Regions from separate parts of the Homo sapiens genome. Here region 2 is linked to region 1. Evidence: fine-mapped expression QTL. Tissue or cell type: transverse colon. Region 1 holds a variant in brackets; the other region holds the start of a gene. All regions are shown on one strand. Distances are between the middles of the regions.

Evidence for each region. PIP is the estimated chance that this variant, and not a neighbour inherited with it, causes the effect. A credible set is the group of variants that fine-mapping cannot tell apart.
Region 2: ENPP3 starts here. The variant in region 1 is the best candidate, but not a certain one, in a credible set for the expression of ENPP3 in transverse colon (GTEx, PIP 0.75).

Annotation. Positions count from the first base shown.
Region 1 is chr6:131,727,384-131,738,759 of GRCh38, forward strand. ENPP3 (ectonucleotide pyrophosphatase/phosphodiesterase 3) reads left to right here. Exons shown (of 25, transcript NM_005021.5): 21 at 6,205-6,340; 22 at 9,972-10,049; 23 at 10,648-10,780. Among named protein-coding and RNA genes, the nearest start is that of CTAGE9, 22 kb to the left of the region's middle. The variant G/GT (reference allele first, on the strand shown) is at 5,539.
Region 2 is chr6:131,630,774-131,641,970 of GRCh38, forward strand. ENPP3 (ectonucleotide pyrophosphatase/phosphodiesterase 3) reads left to right here and starts at 6,529. Exons shown (of 25, transcript NM_005021.5): 1 at 6,529-6,689; 2 at 10,682-10,757. The coding sequence starts at 6,612. RefSeq lists a silencer at 5,168-5,257.

The sequences.
Region 1 (11,376 bases):
CATCTCTACTAAAAACACAAAATTAGGCAGGCGGGGTGGCATATGCCTGCAATCCCCGCTACTTGGGAGGCTGAGGCAGGAGAATCGCTTGAACCCGGGAGGTGGAGGTTGCAGTGAGCCAAGATCGCGCCATTACACTCCAGCCTGAGCAACAACAGTGAAAGTCCATCTCAAAAAAAAAAAAAAAAAAAAAAACAGCAACAAAACTTTAAAGTATGCCTAAAGTCAGTCCAAACACTTCTCTGGGGCAGGGATGATTTTATTTAATGCATCCTCAGCACAATAGAATTGTCCAGTAAGTGCTTATTGAATGAAACGCATTGAATGAATTAACCACAATCATTATTTTTAGACTTTTAAAGACAAAGCTATACCACCCACCACATGGGTAAATAATCAGGGAGCTGTTTCTGTAGAGAAAATCTTAGTATTTTAGATCCAGAGACTGATGACAAACTTATAGCTATTAATGTTTTTGCTAAGAGTACCACCTCTTTTATGGAAAGGAAATAATTGATTGCATAGGTTTACCTACTCTTCCTGTTCCAATTCAAAATTTTTGGAGAAAGATAAGCATATTTTCCTACTACTAATTAAAACTTTGTATATTCTGAAAGCCAGCTCTGTTGCTGTCAATGGTTCGATTGTGGTCACTGGTAACAGTACTAATGTTTGTTTGCCAGTGTGGGCAAATATTTTACCAACAGTTACCTGAGTTCATATGGACGGTTGGTGCAACATTACTTTCTTAATATGCACAGTGTTCAGTTCGTGATTTTCTTCAACACACAACATTCCACAAAATAACTTCTATTTTGTTATTGTTTTCGAGAGGAGTGGCATACTCAGGGTCAGTCCTATTATTTAATTTTCTATTTTGAAAATTCCAGGTATGAGGGGTTGTGTGGCATTAAAGGGAATGTTTATGTTTTTAGTACTTTTCCCCTGCTGTCTTGCATTCTTGAATTTTTATGAGCTTTGGCGGAAACCAAAGGCGGAGAGATTCTAAGTGGGCTCAGACTAGGAGTTTAATACAATTCTTCTTTGTTATTGTTTTAAAACTAGCTTCCTTGTTACCAAAAGTTCCTGTCCTTTCACTGATCCCACAGAAGTACTTGTGTATTTCTCCTTCCCTGTGACAGGATGGAATTCTAGCAATTTTCTGCTTTCTAATTCAGAAATTACTCTGTTAGTGTGTTGTGGTTCAAGAAAATTACATACAAGGATGTTTTGGGATTCACATAAAAATGTTGTAAATCAGCTCTGTGTTTCAAAAAATCAGGCTTAAATAAGCACTTTTTGGAACATGGACCCAATTGGTCTTAGCCTTTAAGATTTATAGAGCTTTTGTTTTTCTGTGGTTTTGGTGGGTTTTGTAATTTTTGTTGTATCTCAGAAGAGTTCTGGGGAAGTAGTTGTGATTTGAAATCATGGTCGTAGAACAGCTGATTCAAAACCATTAAGGTTAGTCAGACCATACATAGATTTTGCTTCTGGGCCTGTTCAGAAGGAAGATATGCACTAGTGTTCCTGTTGCTAGGTGATAAATTGAAAATAAGAGCAAGAATTGTGATTACTGTTTAAAATAGGTATTTCAGAATTTAATATGAAATCAAATAACTTTTCAGAGTAGAAATCTAGTGTACTTTGAAAAATGCCTCTCTGTCTCCCTATGTATCTATGTATCTCTCGCTCTATTTACCTATCTATAGCTATATGTCTATCTATCTGTCAATCTACACACATATCATTCCATGTTAAAAAGCCTTTTTTCTTGTTTCTAAAGATTATTTTGTGAGTCTTTGAAACAGGGGCATTATTGTGTGTTGCAAACATTTTTGAACTATGAAAGAATTATTTTTCCCTGTAGAAAATAAATCATACAACCAAATAATTAAAAACATACATAGTTATTATCCTTACCGTAAGGCAAAATTGTAACTATCTAATCTTCAAACAAGTAGGTTTTAGCTTGTACATTCAGCCTACAGGTAAGAAGCATCTGTAACTTCAATAGAAATAATTTTATCCTCTGTTCAGGTTCTACTTTGTTTCAATGCCAGACTAAAAGTACAAGCAGCTCACGTTCCTGTCTATACTCATCATTTACTTCTCCAGTAAGATTTTGAGAGCTAAAAAGTTCATATTTTATCTGAGTGTCTGAATTATATTTATTGCTTTCCTGACTTTCTATTCCGTTGCTTCAAAAATTCCAGGGAACTCTGATAGGATGGCAGGATTGAAGCTGTTTATGTGTTGGAGGCGGGGTGGTGGTGGTGGTGGTTCACTAAAGCCTTTTTTATTATAGAAAGGACCTTCCTGTACCTCCCCTCCATCCTTCTAATGGGCTGCCTATTGCATAATCTCGCCTGGATAAAGGAGGCCACATCCTCATTCCTAGTACTGATGCACTTTTATTTGAGGGTTCAAGTTTGGTATGTAAGAAATAAATCTCAAGATTTTCGGTTAGCAGAAAATGTGACTTTTTTTTTTTAGTACTTTCTGGCTGAAGCTATCCCAGTTCATTTCCCCCAGCACAAAGTCTAAGCTACTTTGAGAACATGGTAAATATTTTGACCAACTAAGTTGTTTAAGCACAACTTTTACAGCCACAGCCTCATTAAAAATTACAATAAACTTTCTTCGTTAACATTTTTATAATTTTAACTGTTAAATATAAGCATCTCAATTTCCTTACATTATGGAAAATGCATTTAGGGCTACATTTATATACTGTATATTTCTTCAAGTAAAACTTACTAATGTGAAATGTTTGAGTACAACGATAAAGATGTGTGTTAGGAAATATCAAACTCACAATATACCAGCGGTCTATGGGGCCAACTTGGTCAGCAGTCACCATTCCTTATTTTCTAATTTTACAACATACTTACGTAGCCCTTATACCAAGTGGAGAAACCTGGTCACTCAGAACTGTATACTATGATATGTTTTTGAAAGAATATAAACAAATGCTTTTAGCTTTCCAGACTCTGCCACCTGAAGGAGAGTGAAATAAATGGTGAGAACTCATCCAACACATTTAGCACAAACGTCTTCGTATTTCTTGGTTTACTTCTTGTTTTGGTGGACTATATCACTCAGGAGCTTCCTGAGAAAGAAAAAGGGGAAGATACATTCTTGAGAGTTTTTGTGTCTCAACATGTTTTTACTCTGCCTATACACTTAATTGGTGTTTTAGCTGGTTTCAGAATTTTAGAAATAATTTTTCTTCAAAATTAGTAAGACAGGTCAAGCGCAGTGGCTCACGCCTGTAATCCCAGCACTTTGGGACGCTGAGTGGATGGATCACCTGAGGTCAGGCGTTTGAGACCAGCCTGGCCAACATGGCAAAACCCTGTTTCTACTAAAAATACAAAAATTAGCTGGGCGTGGTGGCGCATGCCTGTAATCCCAGCTACTTGGGAAGCTGAGGCAGGAGAATCAGTTGAACCCAGGAGGCAGAGGTAGCAGTGAGCCAAGATTGTGCCATTGCACTCCAGCCTGGGCCAGATAGTGAGACTCCATCTCAAAAAAAAAAAAAAAAAATTAGACTTCCTGGGCTGATTCTCTAATGTGTTTGAATTTTTCCTATTTTTCCCATCTCTTTGTCTTTAATTCCACCTTTTGAGTCACGTCTGCAACTTCATCCTCTAGATCTTATTGAGTGTTTTCTTTTGGCTGTCGTATTTTGAAATCCCAAGAGCTCTTTCTGTTACCTTTTCTCTTTTTAAACATTGCCTCTGTTCCTTCTTTATGGATGCCATATATACTCTCAGCTCTCTGAGAAAAGAGTTTTCTTCTGGCTTCTGCATTGTCTCTTTTTCTTCTCCCTTATTCCCCAGTGTCTAGTGGTCCTTGGCTGTCAGCTTCTATTTTAAGAGTTAGGCACTAAACTATATGGCTGGGTCTTTCCAGTCTATAAGCTTCACTATAGGTTGATCAGGAAGAGAACCAGCCATTTTGTTGAGGACTCCAAACTGACAGTATCTAGTTTCTTTTCAGGCTGGTTGTTTTCCAAAGAGAGGATACTTCTAATCTGACTCAGCATATACAATTTTCAGGCTAAATGGGCAATGAGATTGGGGAATCTTATCATTCAGCAATAGAGTTTTGTTTAATCTCATTTCTTTCAGTATGGTGCACCTGCTCTTGGCTGTGCCTTGTGTCTTTTAGTCTGATCATCCCTCTGGTTTAAACTCTCCAGAGAGTAAACATACTGTCTATCCCTTTTTGCAGACTTTTTCAATCTATCCTCTATTTCCAGCCTTATGCGAACTCCTGTCTTTAGGACTCCAAGTTCTACCCTTCTGGGGTTCTACAGTAGGACTTCCTTGGTGCTTTTCCCAAACATAAGCTCTTGGTAGTCAGTGTTTACTGGTCTACTAAATCACGTTATTATTTATCTGATTTCCAGCTTCTGAATGTTCCCTGTCATCTCTTGTGTGTTTTCATTATTACTGTCTTCTTAATGGAATTTTAGAAGGGAGCAAGATAAATGTATGTGTTTAATCAATTTGAGAAGTTTTCTAGCTGGAGCTTTGTAGTATGTTAGGGAGTACAGTCTCTGCTTTGCTTTTTCTGGACTTTTCTCATCTTCAGCTCCTACTTGTTCTATACCTCAGCATGGTGCTCTCCTGGCTACAAAGACAGCATACAGTGTATGTTGCCTCTTCCTTTGTGAATTGAACTCAGAGGTTTCAGACAACATAGCTAATTTTGCTTTCAGCACAATGCAGTGAATAAAGGAAGGTCATCCTAATTTAACTTAATCTTCATTTTTTTATAAATTATTTCAAATTTTATTAAGAAAGATATCCATTATGGGCAGTAGAGAGCATACAAATCAAAATGTCTGAGAAAAATAAACAAATAGCAAAATGTTCACTTACCCATGATTATATGCTAATCAAAATATGATGACCACATAATATAGTATTACCTTAAATACTCGAGTTAGGCAGCACATTTACAGGATGTCCTCTTGGTAAATAAATTATTGTACTAGTCTTTAAATAGGGCTACAAAGAAATTATTATTATTTTTTAAGACGGAGTCTCTCTCCGTTGCCCAGGCTGGAGTGCAGTGGCACGATCTCAGCTGACTGCAACCTCCACCTCCCAGGTTCAAGCAATTCTCATGCCTCAGCCTCCCGAGTAGCTGGGATTACAGGCACCCACCACCACACCTGGCTGATTTTTGTATTTTTAGTAGAGATGGGGTTTCACTATGTTGAACCTCGGACTCTTGACCTCCAGTGATCCACCCGCCTCAACCTTCTAAAGTGCTGGGACTACTGGCATGAGCCACCAAGCCTGGCCTAAGACATTATTATTATTATTATTATTATTATTATTATTATTATTATTTTCAGATGGAGTCTCACTCTGTCACCCAAGCTGGAGTGCAATGGCCCAGTCTCAGCTCACCTCCGCCTCCCGGTTCAAGCGATTCTCCTGCCTCAGCCTCCAGAGTAGCTGGGATTACAGGTGCCCGCCACCATACCTGGCTAATTGATGTATTTTTAGTAGAGACGGG[G/GT]TTCACCATGTTGGCTAGGCTGGTCTTGAACTGCTGACCTCGTGATCTGCCTGCCTCGGCCTCTCAAAGTGCTGGGATTACAAGCATGAGCCACTGAGCCCGGCCTGGCCTAAGAAATTATTTTAAAAATTCTTATATTTCATGATGAATGAAGCATGGCTGTAAATTTATTTATATTCAAAACTAATTTGTTTAGACAACTACACCTTCTTTGAATTAATCTTAGGTTGATAAAAAGTTCTTGAACAGCTGAAGAATAATATATCAATACTTAGTTTATATCAATATTTTAAAAGTAAATACATTTTACTTTCAATTTTTATTTAAAAGTACAATATACATCACCACATAAAAGTTAGATCTTGAAAAGGATTTTAGTTTTTAGGAATAGTTCCCATTATTCCTCTGCTCTCAATTCAGGTTTCACTGTGCAAATATTTTTTTCCAAGGTGTATTTGATTTGCCCTCCCGATGTCCTTAACCAGAAGGGAACCACAGAAGAAAACACTGCTGAAGACATCCATTCTCATTGCTTGCGTAGACCTGATTCACTAAGAAAATAGGAAAAGCTTAAATGAAAAACATTCTAGGGAAGTGACAAACCATATAAGGCAATGGGTGAGCCGCAATTGTGGGCGTAATTTTTTTCTCTCTCTCTTTGAACAGGGAGACACATCGCCTCTGCCTCCCACTGTCCCAGACTGTCTGCGGGCTGATGTCAGGGTTCCTCCTTCTGAGAGCCAAAAATGTTCCTTCTATTTAGCAGACAAGAATATCACCCACGGCTTCCTCTATCCTCCTGGTTAGTAGAACTCTTTTTTAGAGCAGTAGCTTAGAAAGCTCTCATCAGCTGGATGTGGGCATGTGCCTTAAACATATACTCCCCACCAAAACTACCTGCTTGGGTAAGCTAGCTGCCTGAGAGGCTTCCAGTGGTTGTGGCTGGCCAGAGCAGCACAGCGGCTGTAATAAAGACTAAGACATTTTGCAGTGGGACCCACACAGCAGCTCTCATCTGGCCCAGATGTTTAGAGAGTTCGGCAGGTTTAAGTTTAATTTTAAAACTGGAGATTCTTTGCAGAAGGACACAAACATCTAAAAACCCATTTCTTCTGACTCCTGCCCAAGCTAAGGTCCACCTGGAGAATACAGCTGTGCCCGTGAAAAGAAATCAGGCTGGGTGCTCGCTTTGGCAGAACATGTACTAAAATAGGAATGATACAGAGAAGGTCACCTAGTAAAATAAAATAAAATAAAAAAAGAAATCAGGCTGGAATTTTGGCCTGTCGCTCATGCTGTAGGGCTAACAGTTTTAAACTGCAGGTGAAGTAGCCAAATGAAATTTAAGTTTTTGTTGTTGTTGTTGTTGTTGTTTTCAGAAAGAATCTCTCTTGGGAACCTGCCAAAGCTAGTGTGATTTTCCTAAAACTCAAGCCACTTCCCTGTGCAACAGGAAACGTCATTTTTATTAACTTGCCTATGAGATTTTCAACAATTTCACCTTCTTAGAGATTTGTAATTTAAAGATTCCGAAATGTATAATGGGCAAAAAGGTTTAATGAAAGCAAGTAGCGTTATCAATTTAAAACTCCTGAGTTAGGATAAATTAACTGATAAATTTTATGTATCTAGATACAATCAGGGGGTACCAAATTTATGTAAGCCCTGTGATAAACATTAAAAATTTGCAACAGGCTGGGTGCGGTGGCTCACGTCTGTAATCCCAGCACTTTGGGAGGCCAAAGTGGGTGGATCACCTGAGATCAGGAGTTCGAGAACAGCCTGGCCAACATGGTGAAACCCTGTCCCGTCTCTACTAAAAATAGAAAAATTAGCTGGGTTTGCTGGTGCGCACCTGTAATACCAGCTATTCAGGAGGCTGAGGAATGAGAATGGCTTGAACCCGGTAGGTGGAGGTGCAGTGGGCCGAGATTGAGCCACTGACTCCAGCCTGGGTGACAGAGTGAGACTCTGTCTCAAAAAAAAAAAAAAAAGTTGCAACATTTTATTAATAAAATATTTGAAATTTGTGTATAAAATTGTATCTGTTAGGCCATAAGATATTAGTTAATACATCAATGTTTGCCTGACAAGGAATAAAATTAATAATTAAACAACTTGTCTCAAAAAATTAAGGATACGGCCAGACACGGTGGCTCATGGTCATAATCCCAGCACTTTGGAAGGTCGAGGCAGGAAGATCACAGGCTCAGGAGTTTGAGACCAGACTGGGCAACATAGTGAGATCTTGTCAGTTAAAAAAAAAAAATCAAGGATAAAATTAAACTCTCTTCTAACTCTCCAGTATAAATTCCAATTATTTGTTAAAAATAGAAGTTCTATTACTAGCACGTTCTTATTTTCCTCTAAAACAGAGGTAATGTTATGTTGATTGACTTTCCAACTTTCAGGGCTTAGTTAAAAAGGTAGAAGAGGCTTTTTGTGGAGTCTGAGAACTACAAACACCATATGAAATCTGAAGAAAAAAGAGCTACTTGTTTCTTCTTGTCTTTTGGTGCCTACTTATTGGCCTCTCATTGAATAATTAGTTACCCAGGCAGGATGGTGCATGCCTGTAATCCCACCTACTCGGGAGGCTGAGGCAGGAGGATCGCTTGAGTCCAGGAGTTCGAGATCAACCTGGGTAAAATGGCCAGACTCTGCCTTAATAGTAATTAAAAAAAATAATTAGTTAAGATATCCAAGTACAGTTTAAGTATAAAAAGTATTATAATAGAAAATTCATATAAGTGGAATTGTGCACTATATGTGTTTCTGTGACTGCCTTATTTCACTCAATGTCCTCAAGTTTCATTCATGTTCTTATATATTACAGAATCTAAAATAGTCAAATTCATAGAATCAGAGAGTGAAATGGTGGTTGCTGGGGGCTGGGGGAGGGAGAAATGGGGAGTTCCTAATTAATGGGCGTAAAGTTTCAGTTAAGCAAGACAAATAAGCTCTGGGGATCTTCTGTACAGTATTGTACGTAGAGTCAACAGTACTATACTATATACTTAAAAAATTGTTAACAGAGTAGATTTCATGTTAAGTGTTCTTACCAAAATGAAATCAAATGAAAAAGGATTTGAATAAACATTTACAGGTTTGCAGCTTTTAATCCTCACAATAATTCTATGAGATAGATGCCATGAGACAAATGAAGCACAGAGGGATGCAGCACTTTGCCCGAGGAGTGCAGCTGTGAGCAGCGGAGCTGGGGTTCCCACTTGGGCTGTCTGCTTCCAGAGCACCCTCGCTGAACACTCACTGTGCTAGACAGCACAGCCATAAATCCTCAGAGCCCATGATTTGTGGTGTTCCCTTCAGCAGTCTCTATTAGTCAGTTCTCATACTGCTAATAAAGGCATACCTGAGACTGGATAATTTATAAAGAAAAGGGGTTTAATGGACTCACAGTTCCACATGCCTGGCGATGCCTCACAATCATTAGGGAAGACAAAGGAAGAGCAAAGAGATATCTTACATGGCTGCAGGCAAGAGACAGCGTGTGCAGGGGAACTCCTCTTTATAAAACTATCAGATCTCGTGAGACTTATTCACTATCACGTGAACGGCATGGGAAAGACCTGCCCCCATGATTCAATTACCTCCCACAGGGTCCCTCCCACAGCACGTGGGAATTATAGGAGCTACAATTCAAGATGAGATTGGGGGGGACACAGCCAAACCATATCAGTCTCTATCAAGTAAAAACTCATTTTCTTCAGAAAATTTTATTTTGGAAGACAGCTATCTATAATAACATTATTATTTTGTGCACATCCAATAACTACCCATTTATATCTGGCATTCTGTTTGTTTCCTAGGGCTGCTGGAACAAATTACCAAAAAAGGTTGACTTAAAACAAAAATGTATTATCTCACAGTTCTGGAGGTCAGAAGGCTAAAGTCAAGGTGTTGACAGCCATGTTCTTTTTGAAGGCTCTAGGGGAAAATCCTTCCTTGTCTCTCCCAGCTTCTGGTGGCTCCAGGCATTGCTTGGCGTGTACTGGTATCACTCAAACCTCTGCCTCCATCTTCACAAGACCTTCTCCCCTGTGTTTCTCCTCTTCCCAAATCTCCTTCTCCTTATTAAGACACTAGTCACTGGATTTACAGTCCACCCTAAATCCAGGATAATCTCATCTAGAGACTCCTAGCTACATCTGCAAAGACCTATTTCCAAATAAGTTTATATTCACAGGGATGAAAGGAATGGTTAGGACTTGGATGTATCTTTTTTGGATCACACTTCAACCCACTACAGGCATAAAACTGCCTGCATTATTAACAACCTCTGTTAGAAAGTACTACTTCTGTGCTTTGACTGTTAATAAATTTATATTAATATGTAATAGTAGTATGCCTGTTGTGCAGTATGTCATATTTTCTCTTATAGCTAGATCTAATAAGATCCATTTGTTTTGCAGCCAGCAATAGAACATCAGATAGCCAATATGATGCTTTAATTACTAGCAATTTGGTACCTATGTATGAAGAATTCAGAAGTAAGTATGAATTTAGAGTATTAATTTTAAAATAGTTAAGTGACTCCTTGAACTTCCAAACTAAACACATATTTTTTTAATTGCAATTTGTTCCTGATATTAAGGGTCATTTTGTTCTAATGGTTTAAATATAGGTATAGGAAGGATCCCTCACATAGTTTCTTTTCAACTTACTTTGACTTTGAGTGACTTGTTGCTAGAATTCTGATAATTTGTTTTTAAGCCTTAATTTGATTACTGCCACTCACTAAAAGTAAATCAAATGTAAATGTTTATCCCCAGAGTAATAATTAATAAGGCAACATGTGTGTTCTGATCATTTTTAACACTCGCTGTCCCATAAGCAACTCAGCCCTAGGGAGAAATTTGAAGGCATATTTAACTGTAATTTCAAGACAATAACTACAAAAACAAAAAGCTATCATCAATGTGGCTGTTTATTTTTGCTTGTGAAGCCTATTCTGGAGAATTACCCAATCATCACTGGCAATTATTAAGGCAGAATTTCATGTTATTTAAATGTACTTGTCTATAATAGAAAATAGTGTCATATTTCACTGAAGTGGACATTTTAAACACTTTATGATTTTATTTTTAGAAATGTGGGACTACTTCCACAGTGTTCTTCTTATAAAACATGCCACAGAAAGAAATGGAGTAAATGTGGTTAGTGGACCAATATTTGATTATAATTATGATGGCCATTTTGATGCTCCAGATGAAATTACCAAGTAAGTGATTTGACTTTTTGATTTATCAATAGGGTCTCATGAGGGGAAATTCCAATATTTTAAGTAAAGCTCAGTATTTTAAATATTACATAATACATTCACAGACAAATGTTATTGTTGACTATTTTCAATCTAGTCTATCTAAATATTTAGGAAAGCTTATATTGCAAAAAATTTAAACTAATGGGCAAAGAAAACACTTCCTGGAAAAGTTTAGCAAAATTTTATTTGGAAAATTGCTGAATTAATGGGCAAAGATAACATGAAATTTTGTAAAGGCTAAGGAGGTAGACAAAACTTGATGTACTATCAATGAGTATAAAACCAATCCAACAGTAAATGAAAAAAAAGTCGAGTAAAGGCTAAGGTAAATTTTACAAGAATAGTGAAAAGTCAAGTAAAGACTAAGGTAAATTTTACAAGAATAGTGAACAGTTCATAAAAGCACTTCCCAGGAGACAATGTAGGTAAATTTCATGCAGAGAACTAGTCCTAACTAAACTGTACATTTTAGTATTAAGCCTGGTCATAACAGGTTGCTAAGAATTAGTTTTGAATGCAGAGCACAGTAATAGAGTTTTAGAGAAGTTTCATCT
Region 2 (11,197 bases), 97 kb before region 1:
CAGGCAGCATGGTTGTTTTATAATGTCTCTTCTGGAGACATCTCTAGAATTTGAGTCATAAATGAGGCCCTCATGAGTACACTAAAAATGAGAAGAGCCTATGAAAACCTGGAAAATGTTTGGAAATCCAAAGATTTCTGAGTTTCAAAATGAACAAGAAAGGGCTCCTAGAAATCTAACACTACTAGGGAATATTTCTGTACTTGAGACAAAGTAAGAGAAACAGTCTTCCATGAACCAGAGACAACCTTAGGAATGCTGATCGTTCAGTAGAAAACAATTGCTACACCACAGGAGTCATCACATCAGGTTTCTCATCTCCAAATTGATTATAGATGTTCATTGTGCTGATCAGTAATGAGATTTTTACTTATTTAGTCAGAAAATATCTTTTCACACACATAGGTACTGGCAAACAGCGGTATCAAACTGTGACCATTGATTCTACTTTGCCATAGTCATTGTTTGGAGGACTAGAGCTGGGCTCTCTATTCCATGCTGGGTGTCTGCTTTGTCTCCTGGTGTGTACCATTGCCTCTCAGACCTGGTTTGGCACTGCTGACATCAGTCTCACCAAGACAGCCAGTTCTCAATTCAGCTTCAGTGTTGGATCTCCACTTGCTGAGGATTAGCTTCTGTCCTTCCTATACCAACTGCCTACCTGGTTAGCTTTCTGATTGCTTTGTGTGCTTGTCAATCTCCTTGTAGGTTTTTCTGCTTTTTCCTCATGACTGGCCCTCCCTGAAGTTAGTCACCTGCCCATCTATCTCTGGCATTATGTTATTATGTGAGGTCTCCCTTCCTTTGTGGACTCCTTCTTCCTTTTGCTGTTGGACCTGAGCCTAGCATCCGCCTCACCTCTACCACCCTCCTCAGTGCGATTAGTTTCTCTGGGCTCTCCCAGTCTAGCTTGTCCACCTATCACCCAAGATCTAGCACTGGAACCAGGAAGGGCAGGTTCCTGAGACAAAGAAGTTGATGTTGGCAGGCCCCTAGGGCTTTTCTGAGACAACAACAACCCATTTGTTGCCAGAATTCTGTGGACACTGAGACCTTCTGTAACATGAGGAATGTTTACGGTTTACATTGATGGGTGATGTAATGGTAGCTGCCTCTCAGAATGCAAGCGTTCTAAGCCATTAACTTACTTACAAATTACTCTGAACATTTTAATGTTCAGAGTAAAGTTTCAGAACCAAGAAGGTACAGGTTGTTCTGAAGTTGAAGAAGAAAAGAAGAGAAGGTACAGATTGTTCTAAAGTTAAAGAAGAAAAGAATAGGCAAACTTTCAAGGTCCAGTTAACTTAGAAAGTGTAGGTTCAGATTTAAGTGACACAGGCAGTCTATTCCAAAGTCTAACTTGCATGGAAGGTGTGGTTTTGGCTTGTGTCTATTGATCAGGTGAACTGTTAAGTTTCTTTCTTTCTTTTTTTCTTTCTTTTTTGAGATGATGGTCTTACTCTGCTGCTCATGCTGGAATGCAGTGGTGCCATCATAGCTCACTACAGCCCCAAACTCCTGGGCTCAAGCAATCCTCCCCATATTCTCCCACCTCAGCCTCCCGAGTAGCTAGGACTACAGGCATGCACCATAACTCCTGGATAATTTTTTATTTTTCATTTTTTGTAGAGACAGGGTCTCACTATGTTGCCCTGGTGGGTCTTAAACTGACATAAGTGATCCTCCTGCCTCAGCCTCCCAAAGTGCTGGGATTACAGGTGTGAGCCACTGCATCCAGCCAGGAATAAGTTTCTAGAACTTGAAAGACTCAAAAGAGGTTGGGGTTTAGAGTTCAGTTAGAGAAATTGTTATAGCCAAAAATATGGCTAGCAACTTGGCAATGCCAACCATCTTCACTATACCTACTTGTATTATACATAGGTAGATTCCTTGAGGTTTATTCATCTTAGGACCTGAAGGACTAGGATGTGTCCCTATTATCATATCCAAAATTTAGTGACTTAGAGATAATCTAATAATCTCTGATAATTCTTAAAAATGAAGAATTCAATGTCCAGAATCACTTAATTTGTAACACAGACAGTCACTTACAAGCTAAGCCTTTATCAGAGGCCCCCTGACTTCCCCACCTAGGATTTTTTTGTGTGTTTTTCAGGGTTGAAAGGGGATAGGGATATACTCACTATGTACCCACAATTTTTTTAATTAAAAAAAGAGAAAAGGGATGAGGGATGAGGATGAAGGAAGAGAGAAGTGAAATTCTGGCAGTGTAGAACATAAGGAATCACTTAGTAAAGATACAGAGTAAGAGTCAGTAGTATGTTGGTGATATGGTTAGGCTTTGTGTCCCCACCCAAATCTCATCTTGAATTGTAGTCTCCACATGTTGAGGGAGGGAAGTGATTGGATTCTGGGGGTGGTATCCCCCATACTGTTCTCATAATAGTGAATTTTCACGAGATCTGATGGTTTTATAAGTGTTTGACGGTACCTCCTATGCACACATTCTCTTCTTTCTCCCGCCACCACGTGAAGAAGGTTCTTACTTCTCCTTTGCTTTCCACCATGATTGTAAGTTTCCTGAGGCCTCCCCAGCCATGTGGAACTGTGAGTCAATTGAAGCTCTTTTCTTTATAAATCACCCAGTCTCAGGTAGTTCTTTATAGCACTGCGGAAACGGACTAATATACTTGGTATACAAAACTGGTATAGAATCAAGTTACATTTTGGAGAATACCAGGAAGAAGCATCTGAAAGGGCAATTGGAGTGTCAGAACCAGGTTAAGAGCAGGCTCTGTGGCACAATGGATAGTTCATTGGACTTTTGCCTACATTGAAAGAATGAGGTTAAGCTCAACAACTAATGCTGATGCTTTCGCTGGTTAGGCCTATAGGTGGAATTCATGAAGTTGGGGGAATACCTCACTAATTTTTAATTTTTCTAATTCTGAAGCCCAGGCTCACCTGATTGTGGCAGTGGGGAATGTCCAAAATATGTAGGACCGGGCAGGCCGGCAACTCAGGCTAATGCTGCTGTTTTAGGAGTGAATTTTTTCTCTGGTAAGCCTGTTTTTGCTCGTAAGGACTTCAACTGATTGGATGAGGCGCGCTCTCACATTATTGAAGACAATTTCCTTTTTTAAAGTCAATTAATTATAGTTGTTACCATATCTACAAAATATCACAACATCACCCTAGATTAGCGTCTGATTAAATAACAGGATAATATGGCCTAGCCAAATTGACACACACAGCCAATCATCACAGCAGGAAGGAAAAGTAGGATCCCCAGCAACTAGAGGTAAGGCAGAGTCAGTGCACTGCTATGAGTGCAAGTAGGCAATCAGAACCCAGAAACCCATAAAAATGGAAGGCACATAACAAATGATTAGATAAAAGCCATAGATCCTAGGAATCCCCTAAATTTGAGACAAATTATGACATAGGTTTGGTCTTTGTTTTTAAAAAATCATAATGATTCAACAGCAAAATACTTTGAAGAAGGAACCTGGTGGTATTTCACTTCTGAGATATCACTAAAAGAATTGTGCGTAAGTGACCAAGTCCCTTTGGTGGTCCTCCGACCTTATCTGTAAAATCCAAAAGTCTGATTAGAATAATGACAGGATGTTTGCAGAAAAGAATTTGAATGTAAAGTGTTTAGACTGCTCTGGGCTGCATATCAAATCACTAAGAGGGATATTTATTTATTTATTTGTTTGTTTGTTTGTTTGTTTATTTTGAGACAGTCTCACTTTGTTGCCCAGGCTGGAATGCAGTGGCATGATCTTGGATCACCACAACCTCTGCCTCCCAGGCGCAAGCGATTCTCAAGCTTCGGCCTCCCAAGTACCTGAGATTAGAGGCACCTGCCACCATGGCCAGCTAATTTTTGTATTTTTAGTAGAGATGGGGATTCACCATGTTGGCCAGGCTGGTCTCAAACTCCTGACCCCAGGTGATCCACCTGTCTCAGCCTTCTAAATTCTGGGGTTATAGGTGTGAGCCACCATGCCTGGCTAATTTTTGTATTTTTAGTAGACATGGAGTTTCACCATGTTGACTAGGCTGGTCTGGAACTCCTGACTCAGGTAATCCGCCCGTCTCAGCCTTCCAAGCCTTTCAAAGTGCTGGGATTACAGGTGTGAGCCACCACTCCCGGCCGGGATATTTTAAAAATACTGCTGCCTTAGCCAAAACTACAGAAGATCATTAAACTGAAGTGGAGCCTGGGCTTCAGAATTAGAAAAATAAAAACTTAAAAAAAAATACTTCTCTGAGTACTTCTAAGTTCATCCAGTGTGGAGAGTCAGGTGCCCAAATTATTCAAATTTTTTTTTATTCTGGTTTTTAAGCACATAATACTCCATGTGATTCCTGGAAAGAAATCTGCAAGAACCTGGATTTGGTTGTCTTTATGGCATCTTCTAGTTCTAAAATGAATTCCTTCTGTACCAACAACTAATGCTGATACTTTTGCTGGTTAGGGATATAGGTGGAATTGGTGAAGTGGGGGTATACTGGACCAAGGGAGTGATGGAAAAGATGAGCACAAACCCATAACGCCAGAAAAGGAAACGTGGCTCTCATGCTGCAGATTTATATTTTATTTATTTTTATTTTTTCATTTTTTTATACTTTTGAGACAGGATCTCACTCTTGTTGCCCAGGCTGGAGTGCAGTGGGGTGATCATGTGGCAGGCCAGGTCTCACAAACAGGCAGGCCTCCATAATAACTGTTTCAGCACTGACTGAATGGTTAGGTTAAATATTAAAGGCTGAGAGAGCCAGTGCCCTTACACAAAGTCCAGAACAAGTAACAAAGGCCCACCAAGACTCTTTCCCAGGCCTTCCTGGGCCTTGAAGCATGACAAGATAACGAAGGAATACTCACACTCCTTGTGACAAGACAGTCTTCGGGAGATTCCCAGCAGCTGCCGGGTGAGGTTTTCCTGGAGACTCTCCCCAGGGCTATCCCATGTGCAAAACCACACGTCCCTCTCCCTACTGGGGAATAACGGAGATCGGGGTGGACGCGCTCAAAGGGTAAAACCAGATTTATGCCAGGAGCCTATTATTTTCCCATCTGGGCTTGTTAAGCCATTTGCCTGGTACTGCCAGGGAAGCAATAGGGCTCGCTTATACACCTGCTTTGCATTTGGTTAAGATCAGGTTTTGAGTGGGTTTTGAGTCTGTTCTGCCCGAGTGCACCCCCTCTCTTGTCTTTGTCTGAAATCTGTCTCTGCTTGTTTGTGTATCTGTCATGGCTCACTGCAGCCTCAAACTCTGGCCTCAAGGGATCCTCACACCTCAACCTCTCCAGTAGCTGGGACTATTGGCATGCACCACCATGCCTGGCTAATTTTTGTTGTTGTTGTTATAGAGACAGAGTCTCCCTATGTTGCCCCGGCTGGTCTCAAATTCCTGGACTCAAGCAATCCTCTTCCCCCTGATTTTCAGAAATAGTGTCTAAATTCTATGATTTAGACATGTTTAGTTAGAGTAGTGATGCAGTCATTGTATTTATATTAGAATACATTCTTTTCATATTTTTTTTCTCACTGCTTTTAGGGTTGGAAGAGTTTAGTTAGTTAGAGTAGTGTTTTCCAAAGGGTGTACTGCAGTCTACAGGATTTTGATAATCTTTTCATTAGAGGAGTATTCAAGCTTTATTTAACCAAGGGGGTTGTCATAGAACTCATGTTCCATGGAACCAAACTTTGAGAATCACTGCCTTAGGGTCACTGAAACTAGAAGAGTTTAGCATCCACTATTTGCTAAAATTCTCTTTGACCAACACTATTATTAATTTAGCTTCTTTCATCACCAAACTGTAACCCCTTTTCAGCATGGAGTACACATGCTAGGATGCACCAGTCTAGATACATAAGAAAATAGTGAATTTAAATTGATTAGTGAAAATTGCTTGGATTTGGGGAGTTAGAAGTCTTGGGTATCAGTTCTAGTTCTGGCACCTAGTAAATAATTTTGAGCAATAAGTCATATATAATAACTTAATTTAAATAATCAGAGCCTTAATTTGCTCATCTAAAAACAAGAATAAAATGTTTATAAGGGATATTTTTAAGTTTGACTTGAGCTAATGTGTATAAAAACTTGTCAAATTGTGAACACTGTAAAAAGCAAGATATAATTATCACAGAACTAAGTACTTTATATTGGTTCAGCAGAGTTTCAGAATTTCTACTGTTGTCAAAGCACATGTTTTGCTATGTTGATTTTCAGCTGCTATGAAGTTTATAGAAAAGCGGAAAGTCTGAAATTTCTGTGACAAGGCTTTTTGTTCGGGGTTATTTTTAAAGAAAACAGAAGATCGGATTGCATTAAAATTTGATGATTGTGTTATTCTTGTTATATATGTCTTGACTAGTATTTAGTAAAAGTTATAAGGAAAAAAGGAGCAGTTGTCTGCAATATACTAGAAATGAACTTTAATCTTTTCACACGATTCTTATTACAACATTTTTTCCTCTCTCCAGATTGCCCAATCACTGAAGAGCTGTGATCTTCCTAAACAGTTAAAAGTCAGGCACAGCTATGTAACTCATACAGTTTCTCTTTGCCAGACTAGACTAAAGAAGGAGCACTAATTTATTCTGATAAAACAGGTCTATGCAGCTACCAGGACAATGGAATCTACGTTGACTTTAGCAACGGAACAACCTGTTAAGAAGAACACTCTTAAGAAATATAAAATAGCTTGCATTGTAAGTACAATTCTTATTTTTAGTCTTTCTAGTTTTGTGACAAATGTTAAAAGTATATGATTTCCCATTTACATTTCTTTGTGTTGCTATTAAAATGTAAACTTTTAAGTAACTGTATTCAGTATTATCCCTTATGAAAACTCTAATGCAAATTAATATCTTAAATCATATTTTACACGTAAGAAATTTGAGTAACAACAAGTTAACATTACGTTAAACTCAAAAGTTGGAATCCATGACAGAACGCTTTGTGGCGCTGATTTTTTGCATGATTATAACTACCTCTCAATCACTTTTTTATTGCATGAGTATTTTAAGACAAGAAAGTGAGAAATTAAAATCATTGTACCCTATTATTTGCTGAACCAACAATTGTATCCTATTTTACTTCACTCCTAGAGATAGTCTCTTTTGCCTATTTTCTCTCTCTTGTCATTTCATGTGGTAAGATCTGCCACCCCCCCTCACCCCCCAAATAAATTTTCCTTGATTTTATTTTCTTTTTTCTTTTTTTTAATTTTAAATTTTTTTCTTTTTCTTTTTACTCCAGAAATACGCTTATCCATTTCCTTGATTTTATTACTCTCTCTTTTCCCTTTGCCATCAAACTTTTGGGGTAAAGAGGGCTCATTTCATTGCTTCAGTTTTCTCAGCCCCCAACCATTCCTTTGTGCTCTGGCTTTGTTTCTACTGTACTGAGTCCCTGACTCAAAAGTCAGTCCTCCTCGTCCTTCATCCACTTGAGTGTTCATAACAACAATAACTTCCTGGTACTTTCTCATTCTGAATTATTCTCTCCCCTTGCTTCTACCATGACATTGACATTTTCATTTTATGACTTTTTTCCTTATCTGCATTCTTAGCCAACAATTTATCTTTATTCTCATGAAAATTACAACACAAGCTTCACTAAACCCTATCTAAGATCTCTTAAGAAATCTCATGTTCTCTAATAGTCTTTTTAATTTTAATTTTATTTTTGAGACAGGGTCTCTCTCCTTTGGGATCTCACCTCACCACAACCTCTGTTTCCCAGGCTCAAGTGATCCTCCTGCCTCAGCCTCCTGAGTAGCTTGGACCACAGGCACATGCCACAAGGCTCAGCTAAGTTTTTGTGAGTTTTTTTCTTTCTTTTCTTTTTTTTGTAGAGACTGGGTTTCACCATGTTGCCCAGGCTGGTCTCAAACTCCTGGATCAAGTGATCTACCTGCCTCGGCCTCCCAAAGTGCTGGGACTACAGGCATGAACCACTGCACCTGGCCTCTAGTGTTTTCCTCAGCCAAGAATTCCAAGTAATCCACCAGCTCTGACTTTTTGCCCAGCCTCTGTCACACAATTTCTTTTTTTTTTTAATTTTATTATTTTGGTAATATGTGTATTTTTAGAGACTGGGTCTCGCTATGTTGCCCAGGCTGGTCTTGAACCCTGGGCTCAAGTGATCCTCTCATTCAGCCTCTTGAGTAGCTGGGGACTATGTGTGTGCCCCAGTGCACTAGCCTGTTTCAAATGCCTGCTTCCTGACTCCTGACTCAGTACCTTACACCAAAACTAATTGCATTATTTTTTCACACCAATCTTGCCGCAGCTTTTCCCTATATCCCATATTTTAAGGTCACCGCTATTCTCTGTCTCTCCAGAATTGTTTCAAGAAGTAAATAAAATAATGTAAAACAATGTGTGTAAGTATTAAGCCTAGTAACAAAGTAAATCCTCAATATATTCCATTTATTCTTTATCCTTCTGAGAATTTCAATTTCAGAGTGCTCTTTATAGCTCTTATGCTAATATATATATATATATATATTTTTTTTTTTTTCTCTCTCTCTTTTTTTTGGAGACATGTTCTCGCTCTGTTGCCCAGGCTGGAAGACAGTGGCATGATCATGGCTTGCTGCAGCAACTCAGGCTCCAACTTTGGCTCAAATGATCTTCCCATCTCAGCCTCCCGAGTAGCTGGGACTTCAAGCATGTTTATTATATTTATCCTAGCTTATCAATTCAGGAAATTATAAAATCTTCCACAGCAAAATTTGTGCATCATTAATTTCCCTTCTTTGTATCTCTCTAGTGGTTTTTGAGTATATATAATGAAGTTCAATATTTTTAAATCATTGTTTCAAAAGTACCCTGATGTCTTCAAACTTTTACTAAAGTTTCACTTAAACATTTTGAAGGTATCTGCTGTGTTTCTAGCACTCTTTGTTTAGCCCAGTTAAAGCCAAATGATGTGCTCTCAGCAGTTTTTGATGTTCAGAGTATTCTCCCCACTTTGTGCACAGTGTAACATAGTTTAAGATACATGTGCACCCCAATATCAAGAAGCTTTTTTGGAATTACATATTTATAGTAAATGATTATAAAGGCTTAAAAATAAACTTCTTAGGCGGGGCACAGTGGCTAGTGCCTATAATCCCAGCACTTTAGGAGGCCGAGATAAGAGGAGCTCTTGAGGCCAGGAGTTCCATACCAGCCTGGTCAACATAGTGAGACCTCCAACTCTAAATAATAATAATAATAATAAATAAATAAGCCTTTTACTCTCAAGGAGCTCACAGAATAATGTAGAAAACAAGCCACAAATATATGGAACAAATACAAAAATTATGAAGAAACAGATTCTAACATTAAATATTGTGAAGTTTTAAAGCATCTTAAGAACAGCTAGATGTTGTTGATTTTTCTAGCAAGTTTGAACAGCAAAAGTACCACAGATAAGGTGTAAACCAAAATATGTTAATTTGTAAGTCTATGATGTGTGAGGTTTACCAGAAGGAGTTCCCCAACGTTGTTTTTCTGCTTTGTAGTCACTCTAGTTTCAGTCGACTGTGTCTTCTAAGCACCATGACAAGGGAGGAACTGCTAATGGTGTTATTTAGTAAATGCTTATGTTCATTTTTTCCTCTCCATCCTCTCCACTGAATGAACATGTACTGAAAGGTCACTGACCCTTGAGCTAACTTTGAGACTTCATATAAGAATTGTTTTCTTAGTATTGTAACATAGCTTCCCAATTGTTGAATTCACTTCCATTGTAAACATTAGATGTGTTAATTTTCCAGTTGACTTTCAGAATGAAAACAATCCTCAAAAAAATAATTTATGTACTTCTTAATTATCTAAGCAAAATCTGATGTTTTTTTCTTTTGTGAAAGTTATTTTTTGTGTCTGAAACTATAACAAAGGTTATTGTAAAATACTTTCCTAAGTAATTTGATTACGTGTCTTTCTGCCATTCTTTATGACAACATACAGTATTCAAGCCCTGTCATCCAGCATGCTTATCTCTGGACTTCATGGAAGAGGAAAGAGGGCAGCTAGAAGAATTCTTTTTAATTATATCATAGTTTAATCTAATCATAGCATAAAGTTCGTTACACCAAAGGGCTTTGTCAGCAGAGCGATAATGAATGACATAAACAATCTTTGGTCAGGCAGTTTCCAAATTATCCTAAGTGGTTTGTATGAGTGGAAGACCAAAACAGATTATTTGCTAGTTAACTATTTGGACAATGTATTTTTACGTATGTTAAATATTATTATCATCCTGTGATAGAGTAGGAAAAAAAGCCCTGCTCCCTTAGAATGAGGCAGTTAAGGATTTAACAGTTCTGCAATTCTTTTCAATAAATGATCACAAATGGGTGCCTGGTTTAAAAAAAATGGCCCAGAAAAATGGTTTTATGGTTTTAATTCTTAACTTTAACTCAATTTGCAGTTAAGTTCATTGCATTTGAATGGTAAATGTGTTTGAATTTGAAGATCTGTAATAAATGGTATCTTTAAATTCTGCCAAAATATTCTTTCTTAATTTCAAGCATTAAATAAAATACTATACCTCCAGTTAGGCCAGATACTAGATCATTGTTGGATCTGGTATCTGGCATAACTAGTACGCTGCAGGTACTTAGAGAGAATACTGAGAAAGGGTGGTTATTTGTATCTTTGTAATTTTTTAAAAAATTATAAAAGTTACTTTTTCCTTTTTGCAATAGGTTCTTCTTGCTTTGCTGGTGATCATGTCACTTGGATTAGGCCTGGGGCTTGGACTCAGGAAACTGGAAAAGCAAGGTATACCCCTCAGCCTTTTCTCAGAACATTCCCTTATTTCTTCTCTCTTCTGGCCTTAATTCATTAAAATGTATCTCCCATCCCAAGCCTCCTCTGTCCTCCATGCAGCATTCTGCTTCTAGACATCTCCCTTTCCCCACTCTACTTATCGGGAGTCCACATCTGAGGTTGGCATTGCTCACTGTACTTTCTGGACTTTACTTTTTCACCCTGCTCATTTGAGACTCATTATCATTCCAGTGTTTTTCTCTTACCTTTCTCCACCCTGGTTTTTTTTTTTTTTTTTTTTTTTTGGCAAGATCTCACTCTGTCTCTCAGGCTGGAGCACAATCTCCACTCACTGCAGTTCCTCCCTGCCCTCAGGTGATCCTCCCATACTTGAGCCTCCCAAGTAGCTGGGACCACAGGTGTGTGCCACCACACCCGGCTAATTTTTGCAG